2 linked regions of the Homo sapiens genome follow. The protein of the gene in region 1 purifies or fractionates together with the protein of each later gene. This does not show direct contact. Each region holds a gene or a part of one and is shown in the gene's direction. Other genes may lie near its edges. The genes, in order: MYO9A and UNC5B.

What was found.
Region 2: the proteins of MYO9A (region 1) and UNC5B fractionate together in Homo sapiens (co-fractionation; one large-scale study listed by BioGRID). This does not show direct contact.

The regions. Positions count from the first base shown.
Region 1 is NC_000015.10:72,107,872-72,111,688, reverse strand, and holds part of MYO9A (unconventional myosin-IXa), read left to right. Parts: intron 1-3,817. UniProt on the Homo sapiens protein: Myosins are actin-based motor molecules with ATPase activity. Unconventional myosins serve in intracellular movements. Regulates Rho by stimulating it's GTPase activity in neurons.
Region 2 is NC_000010.11:71,296,011-71,299,827, forward strand, and holds part of UNC5B (netrin receptor UNC5B isoform 1 precursor), read left to right. Parts: intron 1-567; coding exon 568-732; intron 733-1,898; coding exon 1,899-2,080; intron 2,081-3,101; coding exon 3,102-3,267; 3' UTR 3,268-3,817. UniProt on the Homo sapiens protein: Receptor for netrin required for axon guidance. Mediates axon repulsion of neuronal growth cones in the developing nervous system upon ligand binding.

The DNA.
Region 1 (3,817 bases):
CTCCAGGCTGGGCAACAGAGTGAGACCCTGCCTCAAAAAAAAAAAAAAAATTGGGGGTAATATTTGCCTCATAAGACTATCATTGGAGTTAAAAAAATTTTTATGTAAAGCACCAAGCATATAGTAGGTACTCAGTAAGTCTTCCTTTTCCCTCTTGAATACGTCTATTTCCTGTTTTATTTATTAATTTTTTTTTTTTTTTAAGACAATCTCACTCTGTCACCCAGGCTGGAGTGCAGTGGCGCAATCTCGGCTCACTGCAACCTCTGCCTCCTGGGTTCAAGTGATTCTCGTGCCTCAGCCTCCCGAGTAGCTGGGACTACAGGTGCACGCCACCATGCCCGGCTAATTTTGTATTTTTAGTAGAGACAGGATTTCACCATATTGACCAAGCTGGTCTTGAACTCCTGACCTCAAGCGATCTGCCTGCCTTGGCCTCCCAAAATGCTGGGATTATAGGTGTGAGCCACTGTGCGCAGCCTATTTCTTGTTATGTTTAAATGTGAAATCAATAATTTTTTTTTTTTTTTGAGATGGAGTCTCGCTCTGTTGCCCAGGCTGGAGTGCAGGGGTGCAATCTCGGCTCACTGCAAGCTCTGCCTCCCAGGTTCACGCCATTCTCCTGCCTCAGCCTCCCGAGTAGCTGGGAATACAGGCACCTGCCACCACTCCCGGCTAATTTTTTGTATTTTTAGTAGAGACAGGGCTTCACCATGTTAGTCAGGATGGTCTCGATCTCCTGACCTTGTGATCCGCCCGCTTCGGCCTCCCAAAGTGCTGGGATTACAGGCGTGAGCCACCATGCCCGGCCGAAATCAAGAATTTTAAGAATTTCACTGTGTGGCTTTTAGAATAAATGGCTAATCAAAGTTTGTTGCTAAAAGAAGCAGATATTAGGGCAGTCTGTCTACTAGTTGTCTTTCAAGTGTGATTTTTTTCAGTTAAAATATTTCTTGTGGCATTGGGGCATTTAAAAAATATTTTTGAAAAAATACTGCAAAGAAATGCTTCTCTTGATGTCTTAGCATATAAGATTAATGGATTTTAGAATGTATTTGATTCAGTGTGAGTTATCATAACAAAATGTGTTCTGTTTGTCAATGACAAACATTCCTTAAATAATTGACAGATTTTAGTACTATTGCTGTTTGTAGTGTGTAAGTATTTGTTTGAAATCTGTTTATTTTTATTGATCAGATGATAGTGGGCTGAGTAATCTCTGGAATTTTCTTTTTTTTTTTTTTTTTTTTTTTGAGATGGAGTCTTGCTCTGTCTCCCAGGCTGGAGTGCAGTGGTGCAATTTCGGCTCACTGCAACCTCCGGCTTCCGGGTTCAAGTGATTCTCCTGCCTCAGCCTCCCAAGTAGCTGGGATTACAGGTGCCTGCCACCGTGCCCAGCTAATTTTTGTATTTTTAGTAGAGATGGGGTTTTGCCATGTTGGCCAGGAAGGTCTTCAACTGCTGACCTCAGGTAATCTACCTGCCTCGGCCTCCCAAAGTGCTGGGATTACAGGTGTGAGCCACCACACCCGGCCTGGAATTTCCTTTTTGTTTTTTTCTTGAGACAGCATCTCACTGTATTGCCCAGGCTGGACTCAAGCTCCTGGGCTCAAGCAGTCCTCCCACTTCAACCTCCTGAGTAGCTGGTACTACAGATGTGTGCCACTACGCTGCCTGGCTAGATTTTTTTTTTTTTTTTAATGTAAGGGAGAAAGTTCTTAGGTGACTGTGTGGACATGTTTATAAACGATTTTTAGATTTTTTTTGCCTTATTTATTTATTTATTTTTTTGTGAGACAGAGTCTTGCTCTGTCGCCCAGGCTACAGTGCAGTGGTGCGATCTTGGCTCACTGCAGCCTCCACTTTCGAGGTTCAAGTGATTCTTGATTCTTGTGCCTCAGCGTCCCAAGTAGCTGGGATTACAGGTGTGTGCCACCACACTCAGCTAATTTTTGTATTTTTAATAGAGACAGGGTTTCACCATATTGGCCAGACTGGTCTCAAACTGCTGACCTCAAGCGATCCGCCTGCCTTGGCCTCCCAAAATGCTGTGATTACAGGCGTGAACCACTGCACCCGACTAATATTTTTGTCTTATTTTGCTTTTGCAACTCTGTTTTCTTTTAGTTCTCTTTCTTCCCTCCCCTATTGTTTTATAATTAAGATCTTAAAGAAATAGAAAAGTTGGAAGAGAACACTAATTATGTCTATCAACTAGATTCAAAAGATAGCGTTATGCCATCCATATTTGCATTATTGTTCCCTGTGTGATTGTGTGTGTGTATTTTTTTTTTTTTTTTAGACAGAGCCTTGCTCTGTCACCCAGGCTGGAGTGCAGTGGCATGATCTTGGCTCACTGCATGCTCCACCTCCTGGGTTCACACCATTCTCCTGCCTCAGCCTCCCGAGTAGCTGGGACTACAGGCACCCGCCACCACGCCTGGCTAATTTTTTATATTTTTAGTAGAGGTGGCGTTTCACGGTGTTAGTCAGGATGGTCTCGACCTCCTGACCTCATGATCTGCCTGCTGCCTCGGCCTCCCAGAATGCTGGGATTACAGGCCTGAGCCACCACGCCCGGCTGTGATTGTATATATTTTTGCAGAACCTTTTGAAAGTAAGTTGCGGCTGGGTGCCGTGACTCACATCTGTAACCCCAGCACTTTGGAAAGCCGAGGCAGGTGGATCACCTGAGGTCAGGAGTTTGAGACCAGCCTGGCCAACATGGTGAAACCCTGTCTTTACTAAAAATACAAAAATTAGCTGGGCGTGGTGGTGGGTGCTTATAATCCCAGCTACTCGGGAGACTGAGGCAGGAGAATCACTTCAACCTGGGAGGTGGAGGTTGTGGTGAGCTGAGATTGCACCATTGCCCTCCAGCCTGGGTGACAAGAGTGAAACTCTGTCTCAAAAAAAAAAAAAAAAATGTATGTGTCATGACAAGTTTACTGCAAAATACTTCGTATATATTTTCTAAGAAATACATATTTTTCGTATCACCAGTGTGCTATTACCAACACCTAGGAAAAATAATACCCTAATTTAATATTGAATTTATATTTGAATTTTCCCAACTGTCCTGAAAAATGTTTTTTTCAAAAGAGAACTCACTTTTAGTTTTTGCATTTCATTTGATTATCTCTTTTTAGTCTCTCAATGTAGGAAGTTCCTTCCCACATTTCTCTTCCCTGTGACATTGAAATGTCTTTGAAGAGACCAATCATCTTGTAGAATGGCCTGTTTTCTAGAGTTTTCTGATTGTTTCTTAGATTGTTTAACTTGTTCTTCTGGTGCTTGTATGTCCTGTAAACTGGAAGTTATATTGTAAAGGATTGAATAGATTCATATTAAAAAGTTTTGGCAAGAACACTCTGTAGGTGATGTTGTATATCATGTTGTGTGTTAATGGGAGGCACATAATGTCAGCTGTCCTCCTATCAGTGATGTAAGTTCGATAGGTTTAAGGTGGTGTTTGCTTATGTCTCCATTTTAAAAGTAAATTTTTTCTCCTGTTATGTACAATAATCTGTGGGACTGATACTTTGGTACCATACAAATATTCCATTTCTCAGTATTCTTTCTCTAATAATTTTAGCATCTTTTTTGATCCTTAGGTATTTAATTAAGGATTGCAAAATGGCGATTTTTCTAATTCTGTAATTCTTTTTCATTTATTAGTTATTCTTCAGTTAATAAGAGCTTTGTAACCTTTATCAACTGGGAGTGAACAACAGTTCCTATTAAAAGAGAACAGTAAATGCTTAATTTTTTCCTTAATTTTTAGAGTGAGGATTTGTGTAATAGTCATCTACAATAG
Region 2 (3,817 bases), on another chromosome or scaffold:
GGAAGCCCAGCTCCCTCCCGGGCCCTGCCTCCTAGCTCTGTCCTGTGGCCTTACCCCTCCCTGGATCTCTCACTGTCTCTGTCTCCTCCCACCCCAGTCTCTAGGCTTTCAGCCATCCCCAGGCACGTCCCCAAATTCAGGGCAATGGGCAGCCACATGCACACTTCTGCCCTGTCACACCCTCACACGCACAGACGACTATGCCCTTCATCCTCACAGAGGCTCCTCACCCTTCAGGGCATGCCCTCCTGGCAGACTGCCCATCTCATCTCTGACAGCCACAGCCCGCTGCCCACCCAGCAGCGCCTGAGACCACAAGGCCCCCTAGCCCCTGACACACACACACCTGTGCCTTTCCCTCCCCCACCTACCCACCCTCAGCTCCCTTCTGGAACTGAGGGCCTGACACCAACTCAGCTGGCTAGCTTAGGGCACTTGACCCCTCCCTATCTGGGTGGAGAGGCCTGAACTGCCCCCCAAAGCTCCCAACCCTCCCTGAGCCTCCATTTCTATGAGGACAGGGCAGGCTGGCCTTGCCTGCCTGGTCCTGACCCCCTCCTCCTGCAGGAGATCCCCTTCTATCACATTTGGAGTGGCAGCCAGAAGGCCCTCCACTGCACTTTCACCCTGGAGAGGCACAGCTTGGCCTCCACAGAGCTCACCTGCAAGATCTGCGTGCGGCAAGTGGAAGGGGAGGGCCAGATATTCCAGCTGCATACCACTCTGGCAGAGGTGAGGGAAGTCGGGGCCACATATTCCAGCTGCACACCACACTGGCGGAGGTGAGGGAAGGGTGGGGCAGATATTCCAGCTGCACACCACGCTGGCGGAGGTGAGGGAAGGGTGGGGCAGATATTCCAGCTGCACACCACGCTGGCGGAGGTGAGGGAAGGGTGGGGCAGATATTCCAGCTGCACACCACGCTGGCGGAGGTGAGGGAAGGGCGGCCAGATATTCCGGCTGCACACCACTCTGGTGGAGGTGAGGGAAGGGCGGCCAGATATTCCGGCTGCACAGCACTGTGGCATAGGTGAGGGAAGGGCCGCCAGATATTCCAGCTGCACACCACGCTGGTGGAGGTGAGGGCCAGAGGATACCTCTAGGGTTTGGGGCTGGGCTGCAGCACACAGAACCCTGTAGTTCCCTCTCACCTCCCAAGTCTGAGCGGGTATCTGGTCATGTTTTTCTAACAAGTGTCATTTATTGATTGAGTGCCATTCACATGCTTGGCATATACCAAAAAACTTACATGATCTCACAAGCACCGGGAGATGCATGACAGATATCATCCCCACCTGGGAGGTGAGAAAGTAGGTTTTAGGAAGGGCAAGGATTTGCACACAGTACACCAGTGGCAAGACTGGATTCGAACCCAGGTTGATGCAAGGACCAGGCCTGTGGTTCTCAACCGTTAAAAATCCGGATTGAGATTTAAAAACCCAGGCCACCCAGGGTGACAACACTAGATCCTCCTCTTGGGGCATTGTAAAGAGCACTGGATACAGGTCTGGACCCAGGTCTGCCACTAACTTGGCATGTGGCCATGAGCAAGCCACTCCCCTTTTCTAGACTTCACTTTCCACCTGTACAAGAGGGTGCATGTGGATTAGACTGTGGCTGGGCCTCCTTGGGGCTTCCTAACCATGAGGCTGCATCTGCATTTGCCTGGGGCCTTAGGTAAGCATGGTGCACCCCCTGAGGCCTGAAGGGTGGCCATGCAGGCCTTGCCCTTGGGAACCGACCCTTCAAGGGAGAAGCCCCTGCCTGAACAGTGGGAGTCTGTCCAGAGGAGGTGGGAGTGACTCAAGGCTCAATGAGCTCACAGTCCAAGGGGAGGGAGGCTGGAGGGCAGATGCCCAGCACTGTGCCCCTCTCACTCTTGGCCCCCACCCTTGCAGACACCTGCTGGCTCCCTGGACACTCTCTGCTCTGCCCCTGGCAGCACTGTCACCACCCAGCTGGGACCTTATGCCTTCAAGATCCCACTGTCCATCCGCCAGAAGATATGCAACAGCCTAGATGCCCCCAACTCACGGGGCAATGACTGGCGGATGTTAGCACAGAAGCTCTCTATGGACCGGTGAGTATCCCAAACCACAGCCCATCCCCATCTGCCTTCGTCCTCAAGGTCTCACAGGGGCAGGCAGGGCAGGCAGCCTGACAGCCACGACCATCTCCCAGACCAGCTGCCCTTTTGCCACCATTTGTGGCAAATCAGCAACTCAGGATTGGATATGCAAAGTTCAAGAATACTGCTCCCTTGAGGAGCATCATGCTCAGAGCACTGGTCCTTGAGCCAGGCAGACTCTCAGACCCTGCTCTTTTCCCATTGTGTGGGGATAATGCTCCACCTGCCCATCTCACCGAACAGCAGGAGACTCAAAGCCAGGGCATCAGCTTGGTGCCATCATTGTCAGCACCTGGTATCTAGGACAGAGAATGTGCTGCGAGATGCTTGCTGACTGACCAAGATACACTTTGGTGTCAAAACTCCTTTGGAGAACCTCAAATGCTGGATAAGTGCTGGATAAATATAAGGCCAATGATAATAAATATTATACTTATTGAAAGATGTGTAATAAACCTGCATTGAGTCTCAAAAAATAAATAAATAAAATATGCTTTAGATAAGACATTTTACTAGAAATGAATAGGACTTACAAAGATGGCTAAGGCTTTATTCCTCCTATCAGGGGAGTTCATGGGAGCAGGAGGGAACACGGGTGGGAGGAATGACCACATGCTAGACGTGGTCATTCTCTCTTGGGGCCAGTGTCTTTCAATGATAATAATGATGATGATGAACAAGATGGTTACATGCTAGAGACAACGCTAGACCCTTACTTTATATGATCTTGGATCTTGCTGAGCGGTAACTGGCATTGTTCCCATTTTAGAGACAAGGAGACTGAGATTCTGAGCCATAGGTTCTGAATTGCCGAGAGCCACACAGACTGCAGCACAGTAGCTGCAATTCAGACCCAGGACAGTGGGACACCAAAGCTCACAGCCTTCCCACTTCCCCTTGTGCCCCTTCACCTCCAGGCTCCGGGGAGGGGCTAAGTGCTTGGGAACCTCAGTGCCCTCCTTCCCTCTGCCAGGTACCTGAATTACTTTGCCACCAAAGCGAGCCCCACGGGTGTGATCCTGGACCTCTGGGAAGCTCTGCAGCAGGACGATGGGGACCTCAACAGCCTGGCGAGTGCCTTGGAGGAGATGGGCAAGAGTGAGATGCTGGTGGCTGTGGCCACCGACGGGGACTGCTGAGCCTCCTGGGACAGCGGGCTGGCAGGGACTGGCAGGAGGCAGGTGCAGGGAGGCCTGGGGCAGCCTCCTGATGGGGATGTTTGGCCTCTGCTTCCTCCCAGTTCACAGCCAGAGTTGCCTCTCCTCCTCCTCTTCCCCAACCCCCAGACCATGACCAGCCTTAGAAAATCCATGTACTCTGTTGTTAGAGGGCCCAGAGTTCCTTCTCCACCCCCGCTCTCTCTCTCTTGGCCTGAGATCTCTGTGCAGGAACCAAGATGGGGCTGAAGCCTCTGGAGGCAGTTGGTTGGGGGCGGGCAGGCAGGAGGCCCTCCCTCCACCCCCCCACCCTCAGCCCGGCAACTTCTGGGTTCCATGGGTTTTAGTTCCGTTCTCGTTTTCTTCCTCCGTTATTGATTTCTCCTTTCTCCCTAAGCCCCCTTCTGCTTCCACGCCCTTTTCCTCTTTGAAGAGTCAAGTACAATTCAGACAAACTGCTTTCTCCTGTCCAAAAGCAAAAAGGCAAAGGAAAGAAAGAAAGCTTCAGACCGCTAGTAAGGCTCAAAGAAGA